Linked DNA regions of Homo sapiens: region 2 is linked to region 1. Evidence: fine-mapped expression QTL. Tissue or cell type: left ventricle. Region 1 holds a variant in brackets; the other region holds the start of a gene. All regions are shown on one strand. Distances are between the middles of the regions.

What was found. PIP is the estimated chance that this variant, and not a neighbour inherited with it, causes the effect.
Region 2: SEMA6B starts here. The variant in region 1 is the best candidate, but not a certain one, in a credible set for the expression of SEMA6B in left ventricle (GTEx, PIP 0.50).

Annotation. Positions count from the first base shown.
Region 1 is chr19:4,607,156-4,612,303 of GRCh38, forward strand. No RefSeq gene overlaps it. Among named protein-coding and RNA genes, the nearest start is that of TNFAIP8L1, 30 kb to the right of the region's middle. RefSeq lists enhancers at 1-131, 132-689. The variant A/G (reference allele first, on the strand shown) is at 3,071.
Region 2 is chr19:4,557,651-4,562,798 of GRCh38, forward strand. SEMA6B (semaphorin 6B) reads right to left here and starts at 2,034. Exons shown (of 17, transcript NM_032108.4): 1 at 1,880-2,034; 2 at 687-839; 3 at 376-499. The coding sequence starts at 807.

The DNA.
Region 1 (5,148 bases):
CCGGCTTCCCTCCCGCCTGCCTCGGCCTGGACCCGGCCCAGCTGCTGACCTCGGGAACTCGAGTGCCCCCAGGGACGCAGACAATCAATTAGAATTGGCAGCGCCTGCCTAAGTAAAAGGCCTGCTTTAATGAGGAGGCTGTGGCTCTGCCGTGGGCGCAGGCGCTGGGCTGAGCCCGGCGCGGGCTGGAGCTGAGGGGTCACGTGGCCACCAGGGCCCACCTGCCTGTCACAATTATGAGTCCCCGTGTGTGAGCTCATTATGTTTATCATTAGGCCAGGGCTATTTACAGATCGGGGAGAGCAGCCCCTTGTCATGCAAGCCGCAGACATTTATTGAGCACCAGCTGTGTGCTAGGTCATGTGCTGGGTTCGAGGAAACAGTAGGGACAAGACGCCCTCCAGTGGGGGCCAGGGGAGACATCAGGGTGGGCTTCCTGGAGGAGGCAACACATACACTGAGATTGGAATGATGACTCGAAATTCGGTCCTGAAGAAGGGAAGGGAAGAGGATTGTCGAGGCCTGGTTAAGAATGAGGCCAGGTGCGGTGGCTCACGCCTGTAATCCCAGCACTTTGGGAAGCTGAGGTGGGTGGATCACCTGAGGTCAGGAGTTCCAGACCAGCCTGGCCAACATGGTGAAACCCCAAATCTACTAAAAATACAAAAATTAGCTGGGCGTGGTAGCGGGTGCCTGTGATCCCAACTACTCGGGAGGCTGAGGCAGGAGAATTGCTTGAACCCGGAAGGCGGAGGTTGTGGTGAGCCGAGATTGCGCCATTGCACTCCAGTGTGGGCAACAGAGCAAAACTCCATCTCAAAAAAAAGAAAAAAGAATGAGCGCAGCCTGGGTTGTGGCGGGGGGGGCTCCTACCTGTAATCCCAGTGCTTTGGGAGGCTGAAGTGGGAGGATCACTTGAGGCCAGGAGTTAAAGACCAACCTGGGCAACATAGTCAGACCCCCATCACAAAAAAAATAAAAAAATTAGCCAGGTGTGGTGGCGCACATCTATAGTCCAGCTACTTGGGAGGCTGAGATGGGAGGATTGCTTCAGCCCAGGAGGTCGAGGCTGTAGTGAGCAATGATTGTGTCTCTGCACTCCAGCCTGGGTGGCAGAGTGAGACCCCATCTCAAAACAAAAAATTGAATTAGTTCCCGTGTACGGGTTGTTCAAAGCAAGATAACACAGCAAAGGACCATGAAGCCTGCAGATGAATTTCATCTCGAGGTCCTGAATCAATTACATCTGCAAAGACCCTATTTCCAAAAAAGCTCATATTCTGAGGTTCTGGGTGTGTATAATTTTTTTTTTTCAGACAGGGTCTCACTCTGTTGCCCAGGCTGGAGTGCAGTGGTGTGATCTCGGCTCACTGCAGCCTTTACCTCCCCGGTTGACGTGATTCTCCTGCCTCAGCCTCCTGAGTAGCTAGGATTACAGGCAGCTGCCACCATGCCCGGCTAATTTTTGTATTTGTATTTTTATTACTTATGATCTTTTTCCTGAGACCAAGTCTCACTCTGCCACCCAGGCTGGAGTGCAGTTGTGTGATCTTGGCTTACTGCAACCTCTGCCTTCTGGGTTCAAGCGGTTCTCCTGTCTCAGCCTCCCGAGTAGCTGGGACTACAGGCGTGTGCTACCACCCCCGGCTAATTTTTGTATTTTTAGTAGAGACGGGGTTTCATCATGTTGGCCAGGCTGGCCTCGAACTCCTGACCTCAAGTGATCCATCTGCCTCGGCCTCCCAAAGTGCTGAGATTATTACAGGTGTGAGCCACCGTGCCCGACCTATTTATTTATTTATTTTTGAGACGCAGTCTCGCTCGTCACGAGGCTGGGGTGCAGTGGCGCGATCTTGGCTCACTGCAACCTCTGCCTCCTGGGTTCAAATGATTCCCCTGCCTCAGCCTTCTGAGTAGCTTGGACTACAGCCGTGTGTCACCATGCCTGGCTAATATATATTTTTTTTTTTTGTATTTTAGTAGAGACAAGATTTCTCTATGTTGGCCAGGATGGTCTCGATCTCCTGACCTCATGTTCCACCCACCTCGGCCTCCCAAAGTGCTGGGATTACAGGCATGAGCCATCGCGCCCGGGCTTTTATTTTAATTTCTATTTATTTATTTATTTTGAGATGGAGTTTCACTCTTGTTGCCTAGGCTGGAGTGCAGTGGCACAATCTCAGCTCACTGCAACCTCTGCCTCCCAGGTTCAAGTGATTCCCCTGCCTCGGCCTCCTGAATAGCTGAGATTACAGGCACTCACCACCATGCCTGGCTAATTTTTGTATTTTTAGTAGAGACGGGGTTTCACCATGTTGGCCGGGCTGGTCTCAAATTCCTGACCTCAAGTGATTCGTCCACCTCATCCTCCCAAAATGCTGAGATTACAGGCTTGAACCACCGCGCCCAACCGAGGTGTATGTATTTTTTTTTTTTTTTTTTTTTTTTTGAGACAGAGTCTCGCTCTGTCGCCCAGGCTGGAGTACACTGGGATGATCTTGGCTCACTGCAACCTCTGCCTTCCAGATTCAAGCGATTCTCCTGCCTCAGCCTCTCGAGTAGCTGGGACTACAGACGCGTACTGCCACGCCCAGCTAATTTTTTGTATTTTTAGTAGAGACGGGGTTTCACTGTGTTAGCCAGGATTGTCTCGATCTCCTGACCTCGTGATCCACCCGCCTCAGCCTCCCAAAGTGCTGGGAGTACAGGCCTGAGCCACCGGTCCCAACCGAAGTGTATGTAATTTTTGAATTTATTTTTGCAGGCAGGCACTACTCAACATGGTACAATGTGTGCTTGTTCCTATCTGCCTCCTGCTCTGGAATGTCAACTCCAGGAGGGCAGACTTCTGTCTGTCTTGAATGCCACAGTGTCCCCTGTACCTCAAATACTGTTTGGCACACAGTAGGCACTCAATACGTGTTTGTTTATTCCGCAAACAACTATGAAGCACCCACTGTGTTGTTCTCACACGGAGGTGGAGTTTTTCATGCTCCGAGGACTTGGGGCAGAGAGAAGGACAAGTAGGAGCCACGGTGACTGCGACTTCCTTTTTTTTTTCTGCAGCCTC[A/G]GGTGCCAGCAGCAATAACACAGGACCTCTAGGCAGAGGAAGGGAAGAGGCGCTGAGGGAGGCAGGGCTTCTGCGGCGGGGAGGGGGGGGCAGAGCCCCTGGGGATCAGGCCAGGGAGGCGGGAGTCCTGCTGGAGTCCCTGGGGTCCCCAGCAGAGAGGCTGGCTGGCTGCCCTGCCCTGGCCTGGCTGCTTTTTCTGGCTTGGACGGGAAGGGCTGACACCGCCAGAGGAGGGCAGGGTGGAGGCGGGGAGGGGGCCCGCACCTGGACCCAGGAAGAGGTGGGGGAAAGAAGTGGAGCCTGGGAAGGGGAGACAGAGGAGGTGAGGAGAGAAAGAGAGAAACCAAGAGAGATAGAAAGAGACCCACACAGAGAAGCTGAGCTGGAGTCAGACAGATAAAAGACACGGAGAGACTCACGCAGAAGGTGGCAAAGACAGAAACACAGAGAGATGGACAGAGACAGTCAGAGATAAAGGGAGACTCAGAGAGACAGAGGAGACCCACAGAGATACAGACTCAGAGAGATAGAGAGACACAGACCTAGAGAGAGAGAGAACAACAGAGACAGAGATAGAAAGAGATAGTCAGAGATAAAAGGAGACTCAGAGAGATGGAGAATTAGCCGGGCGTGGTGGCGGGCGCCTGTGATCCCAGCTACTCGGGAGGCTGAGGCAGGAGAATCGCTTGAACCCGGGAGGCAGAGGTTGCAGTGAACCGAGATTGCACCACTGCACTCCAGCCTGGGAGACAGAGGGAGACTGTCCCCCCGCCAAAAAAGAGAGAGAGAGAGAGAGACAAAGAGACTTAGAGAGAGAGAGAGAGGGAAAGAAAGACAGGGATAAAAGTAGATTCAAAGAGACAGAGAGAAAACAAGAGAAAGGAGACCAATAGAGATCAAAAGAGGTAGTCAGAGATAAAAAGAGACTCAGAGAGACCTAGAGACAGAGAAAGACAGAGACAGAGACTTAGAAAGAGAATGGGGAAGAAACAGAGAGATAGAGGCAGGCGAGAGGCTCCCTAGCCCATCCCCCTCCCCAATTTTCCTCTCTGGGGCACCCCTGGGGTCTGGGGCTCTAACCCTGTCCTGGTCCCCACCCCTCCCCCTAGCTGGTACTTCAGACCCCCTCCACAAACTGGCTGAGTGCCCCCAGTCCCTAACTCAGGGTCTCCTCAGCTCAGAGCTCCGGGGCTCAGCCCTGAGACCTTCTGGGATTCAGGATCCGAATGCCCAGTGGAGCCAGAATCTGAATCCCAGAGGCAGGGACACCATTAATCCTGGAAAGAGGGCACCCCCTCCACCCGGGCCTGAGCTGAGAGCGGGGAGGCTGTCTATATGAAGCCCCCACTTCACACTTCCCACAGGAGAGATTCACCCTGTTTCACAGGGGAGGAAACTGAGGCTTGGAGAAAGACGGGATTGTGGAGAGGTACACGTTTGTTCATCCAGAAAATATGCACTGAGATGGGCGCAGTGGCTCATGCCTGTAATCCCAACACTTTGGGAGCCCGAGGTGGGCAGATCACCTGAGGTCAGGAGTTCGAGACCAGCCTGACCAACATGATGAAACCCCGTCTCTACTTAAAAATACAAAAATTAGCCGGGCGTGGTGGCGGGCGCCTGTAATCCCAGCTACTCAGGAGGCTGAGGGAGGAAAATCGCTTGAACCTGGGAGGCAGAGGTTGCAGTGAGTGGAGATCACGCCACTGCACTCCAGCCTGGGTGACAGAGTGAGACTCCGTCTCAAAAAAAAGAAAGAGAAAAAAATGAGAGCGGGAAAGAAAGAAAGAATACTGGGTATCATATAATTGACTCATAAATATTTCAATTTTTCAATTTGTATCTTTTTTTTTTTTTTTGAGACAGAGTTTCTCTCTTGTTGCACAGGCTGGCGTGCAATGGCGCAATCTCGGCTCACTGCAACCTCCACTTCCTGGGTTCAAGCAGTTCTCCTTCCTCTAACTGGGATTATAGGAGTGCGCTACCACGCCTGGCTAATTTTGTATTTTTAGTAAAGACAGGGTTTTACCACATTGATCAGGCTAGTCTTGAGCTCCTGACCTCAAGTGATTCACCTG
Region 2 (5,148 bases), 50 kb before region 1:
AGCCCATCCCTAGAAGCCCCGTAATCTCACACTTGCTTCTCCCCACGACAGCTTCCACCTGGTCCAGCCTCAATCATAGCCAGCCTGGACAGCCCAGTCCCCTCCACCCTGGTCCCCTGGATTCCATTCTCGCCCCCTCCCAGAAGCAGCCACCAGAGGGCGGGCGCGTGTGAGCACCTGAGTCAGGTCCAGTCCTTCCCCTACCTAAAACCCTCCGTGGCTCCCACCTTCCTCCGGGTCAAAGCCTAAGTCCTCCCAATGGCCCAACAGGCCCTGCACGACCTGCTCCATCCCCTCCCTGCCCTCGCCTCCTCTCTCTCTCCCCCTCGCTCATTCTGCTCGTCACACAGGCCTCCTTGCTGTCCCCAGCAATACCTGTCCCCAATGAACAGCGTCCTGTTGACCCGCAGGACTCGCTGGATGTTGAGGTCGTCAGCACCTTCTGCGGGGGTCAGGCGTCCGGGCCCGCTGCCCACAAACACGGGATAGTGGTTCAGGTCTGAGTGAGGGGGTGGAGAGGGGTGTGAGCAAGGGCTGGGGGTGAAGAGAGGGTGGCCTGAGGTCATGCCCCTTCTAGGGGTGGCTCCTGGACTGCTTGAGTCCCCCAGTGGGGGCAGCAGACCCAACTGGGAACCCAGATACTCCCACGGGACTCCACCCCCGCCCAAAGACACCCCCAGACTCACAGTCCCTGGGGGCCACGCTAAGCGGCGGCGGCTCCTCAGGAAAGAGGCCGTGGGCGCCCCCCAGTAGCAGCAGCAGAAGCAGCAGGGCCGGGCGGGGAGGGGACGCTCGCGGGGTCTGCATGGCGAGGGCCAGGCGACAGGAGGAGGTGACGCCTGCGGGCAAGGGGCGGCGAGGTGAGCGGCCTGCAGTCCCGCTCGTGGCCACAAGACGGCGGGCGAGAGCAGCAGACGCTCCTTCAAATCCCAGAAAAATTCCTCACGGGGATAATAATTAATAAAAACAATAATGGCAATAATAATAATAATACACAGCACTGATTTAATTATCAGAACAACTTTATGGCCACGTGTGCGTGAAAGCCCAGGAAACGACTTCAAACAAAACTGCATTCGGTAATTTAAAACTAATAATAATTATTATAATAATAGATACAAATATCCTAAAACATATATTTAAAAATGCAATCGCAAAATACATGCATAAAAATACTTAGAATTAAAACACAAAAATATTAAACTCAAAGGCTAAAAAAAAAAAGAGTCAAAGGCTCTTGGAATTTTATAAGCCACAAGCTGGCTGTGTGTGGTGGCTCACGCCTGTAATCCCAACATTTTGGGAGGCCGAGATGGGAGGATCATCTGAGGTCAGGAGTTCAAGACCGGCCTGCCTAACATAGCGAAACCCTGTCTCTACAAAAAAATACAAAAATTAGCCAGGTATGGTGGCCTGTGCCCGTAATCCCTGCTACTGGAGAGCTGAGGCAGGAGAATCCCTTGAACCCAGGAGGTGGAGGTTGCAGTGAGCCAAGATCGCACCACTGCACTCCAGCCTGGGCAACAGAGCAAGACTCCATCCAAAAAAAAAAAAAAAAAGCCACAAGCTGGGAATGACAGTACTACATAACCACAGAATCACAGAATATTCCCCATGCCAAGGGCCTCTGTGACCCTGGTAGATCTGACCTCCTTCCCAAATCCAGCCTTTTCATTCTCCGCTTGCACACCTCCATGACAGGCACCTCACTACCTCTCACGGGGGACTGCTTCCCACTCCCATTCAAGGTAACTTTGCAGAAACTTCTAGGTGTGTGGAGTGGAGACACTCTCCCATCCAGGTAATGACATAGCAGCGGAATTCACCCTCTGAACCCCCGCCCTCCATGCTGAAGGTCCCAGTTCAGAGCACCCCCTACCAGAAAGGGGTACAGTCCAGGTCCCGGAGCCCCGAATGAGAAGTTCAGCAGCCTCGTCCTTCTGGGAAGTATTGGGCAAGCTCCGAGCCCATTTTCCTGTCTGAGCAGCAGGGGTATCCCCCAGCCCTGCCCTGGCCTTCTGGCTCAGGGATTCTGAGCCCCCAGAGGTGAAGGTGATTCGCGACAATCGGCCCTGGGGTGCCTGCCCCCTCCAAAAACAGGAAGACCTCGCATAGCGCGGCTGGACTTCCTCTTCACGACCCTGAGCTTCCAGGATTTGTGACTCAGCGAACACCCGGATTCCACGTGTGTTCAGGGCACGGCCCTGTTTCCTTCAGAATTTCCTTCCCTGGCTCCTCCCCTGCTCTACAGCCTCCTGTGGCTCCCAGGGACCCCTGAGTCCAGGCCCCAGCCTCTCCCTGGGATTCAAGGCCCCTGACCTCAGACCCCACTTCGGCCTACCCTCCCCTCATGCCACGGGCCTTTCTAGCCCCCTACCCCAGAACCTAACTAAGAGCCCTGTCTGCCCTGTGCCTTTAAAAAAAAATGGCTAAAATATATATAACATAAAAGCTGTCATCTTAACCATTTTCATTTAACTATTATTAGTAGTATTATTATTTGAGACAGAGTCTTGCTCTGTCGCCCAGGCTGGAGTGCAGTGGTGCCATCTCAGCTCACTGCAACCTCCCCCTCCCGGGTTCAAGCGATTCTTCTCAGCCTCCCAGGTAGCTGGGACTCCAGGTGCATGCCACCATGCCCGGCTAAATTTTTTTGTATTTTTAGTACACATGGCGTTTCACCATGTTGGTCAAACTGGTTTTGAACTCCTGACCTCATGCTATCCACCCACCTCGGCCTCCCAAACTGCTGGGATTACAGGTGTGAGCCACCATGCCCAGCCTCCTTCATTCTTATTATTTTTTTGAGATGGAGTCTCGCTCTGTCACCCAGGCTGGAGTGCAGTGGCATGATCTTGGTTCACAGCAATCTCTGCCTCCCAGGCTCAAGCGATCCTCCCGCCTCAACTTCCCAAGTACCTGAGACCACAGCCACGTGCCACCACGCCCAGCTAATTTTTGTATTTTTAGTACAGATGGGGTTTCACCATGTTGGCCAGGCTGGTCTCGAACTCCTGACCTCAGGTGATCCACTCGCCTTGCCCTCTCAAAGTGCGAGGATTACAGGTGTGAGCCACCACGCTCGGCCACCTTTTGGTTTTTTGACAGTCGCCATCCTAATGGGTATGACATGCTGTGTCTTTCATCTTGTGTTTTATCAGAATAATATTTAATTCTAGAAACTATTTCTTTAAACATTAAGAGACAGGGTCTGGCTCTGTTGCCCAGGCTGGAGTACGGTGGCACAATCACCACTCACTGCAGCCTTGAACTTCCAGGCTCAAGCAATCCTCCTACCTCAACCTCCCGAGTAGCTAGGACCATAGGTGTGCACCACCAAGCCTGACTTTTTTTTTTGCCGGGGGTGGGGGACGCAGGGGAAGGTGGACAGAGTCTCACTCTGTCACCCAGGCTGCGATGCAGTGGTATGATCTCGGCTCACTGCAACCTCCACCTCCCAGGTTCAAGCAATTCTCGTGTCTCAGCCTCCTGAAAAGCTGGGATTACAGGTGTGCACTGCCACGCCCGGTTAATTTTTGTATTAATTTTGTAAAGCACTTTGTGAGGCCAAGGCAAGAGGATCACTTGAGCTCAGGAGTTTGAGACCAGCCTGGGCAACATAGCGAGACACGCCCCCATAATCTCTACAGAACATAAAAAATTAACCAGGCATGGTGGCACGTGCCTGTAGTCCCAGCTACTTGTGAGGCTGAAGCAGGATGATTGCTTGAGCCCAGGAGTTCAAGAATGCAATGAGTTATAATTGGTCCACTGTACTCCAGTCTGGGCGACCGAGTGAGACCCTATCTCAAAAAAAATAAAATTAATTTAAATTAAAACAACGACAAAAAAACACCTAGCAAACATAAAGCACTTGCTAGGTGCCAGGCATTATCATAAGTACTTAAATTAACTCATTTAATCTTCACAGCACCCCCAAGGGGTGAGTGCTCTTTTTTTTTTTTTTTTTTTTTTTTGGAGACAAGAGTCCTGCTCTGTCGCCCAGGCTGGAGTGCAATGGCGTGATCTCGGCTCACTGCAACCTCAGCTTCCCGGGTTCAAGCAATTCTCCTGTCTCAGCCTCCCAAGTAGCTGGGATCACAAGTGCCCGCCACCATACCCGGCTAATTTTTGTATTTTTAGTAGGGATAAGGTTTCACCATATTGGCCAGGCTGGTTTTGAACTCCTGACCTCAGGTGATCCACCCACCTCGGCCTCCCAAAGTGCTGGGATTACAGGCATGAGCCACTGCCCCCGGCCAATTTTTGTATTTTTAGTAGGGATAAGGTTTCACCATATTGGCCAGGCTGGTCTTGAACTCCTGACCTCAGGTGATCCACCCGCCTCGGCCTCCCAAAGTGCTGGGATTACAGTTGTGAGCCACGGTGCCCGGTGGGCCCTTAACTGTTTTTAAGTACACACAGTTCACTAGCATTAAGAACATCCACATAATTGTGCACCCATCACCACCACCATCTCCAGAACTTTCTCGACTTCCCAAACTGAAATTCTGTCCCCATGAAACACTCACTCCTCACCCCCCTCCCCAGCCCCTGGCACCTCCCATCCTACTGTCTCAGTGAACCTGATGACTCTAGGGACTTCCTAGGAGTGGGTCACACAGTGTTTGTCCTTGCGTGTCTGGCTCTCTCACTGAGCGGGATTGCCTCAAGATGCATCCACACTGTGACCTGTGTCAGGGTTTCCTTCCCCTTTTTTTTTTTTTCTTGTTTTGAGACAATATCGCTCTGTCTCCCAGGCTGGAGTGCAGTGGCACGATCTCAGCTCACTGCAACCTCCGCCTCCTGGGTTCAAGCGATTCTCCTTTCTCAGCCTCCCAGGTAGCTGGGACTCCAGGTGCACGCCACCACGCCCGGCTAATTTTTTTTTTGTATTTTTAGTATACATGGGGTTTCACCATGTTGGTCTGGCTGATCTTGAACTCCTGACCTCATGCAATCCACACACCTCGGCCTCCCAAAGTGCTGGGACTACAGGTGTGAGCCTCCATGCCCAGCCTCCTTCATTCTTATTATTTTTTTGAGATGGAGTCTCGCTCTGTCACCCAGGCTGGAGTGCAGTGGCATGATCTTGGTTCACCGCAATCTCTGCCTCCCGGGTTCAAGTGATCCTCCCGCCTCAACTTC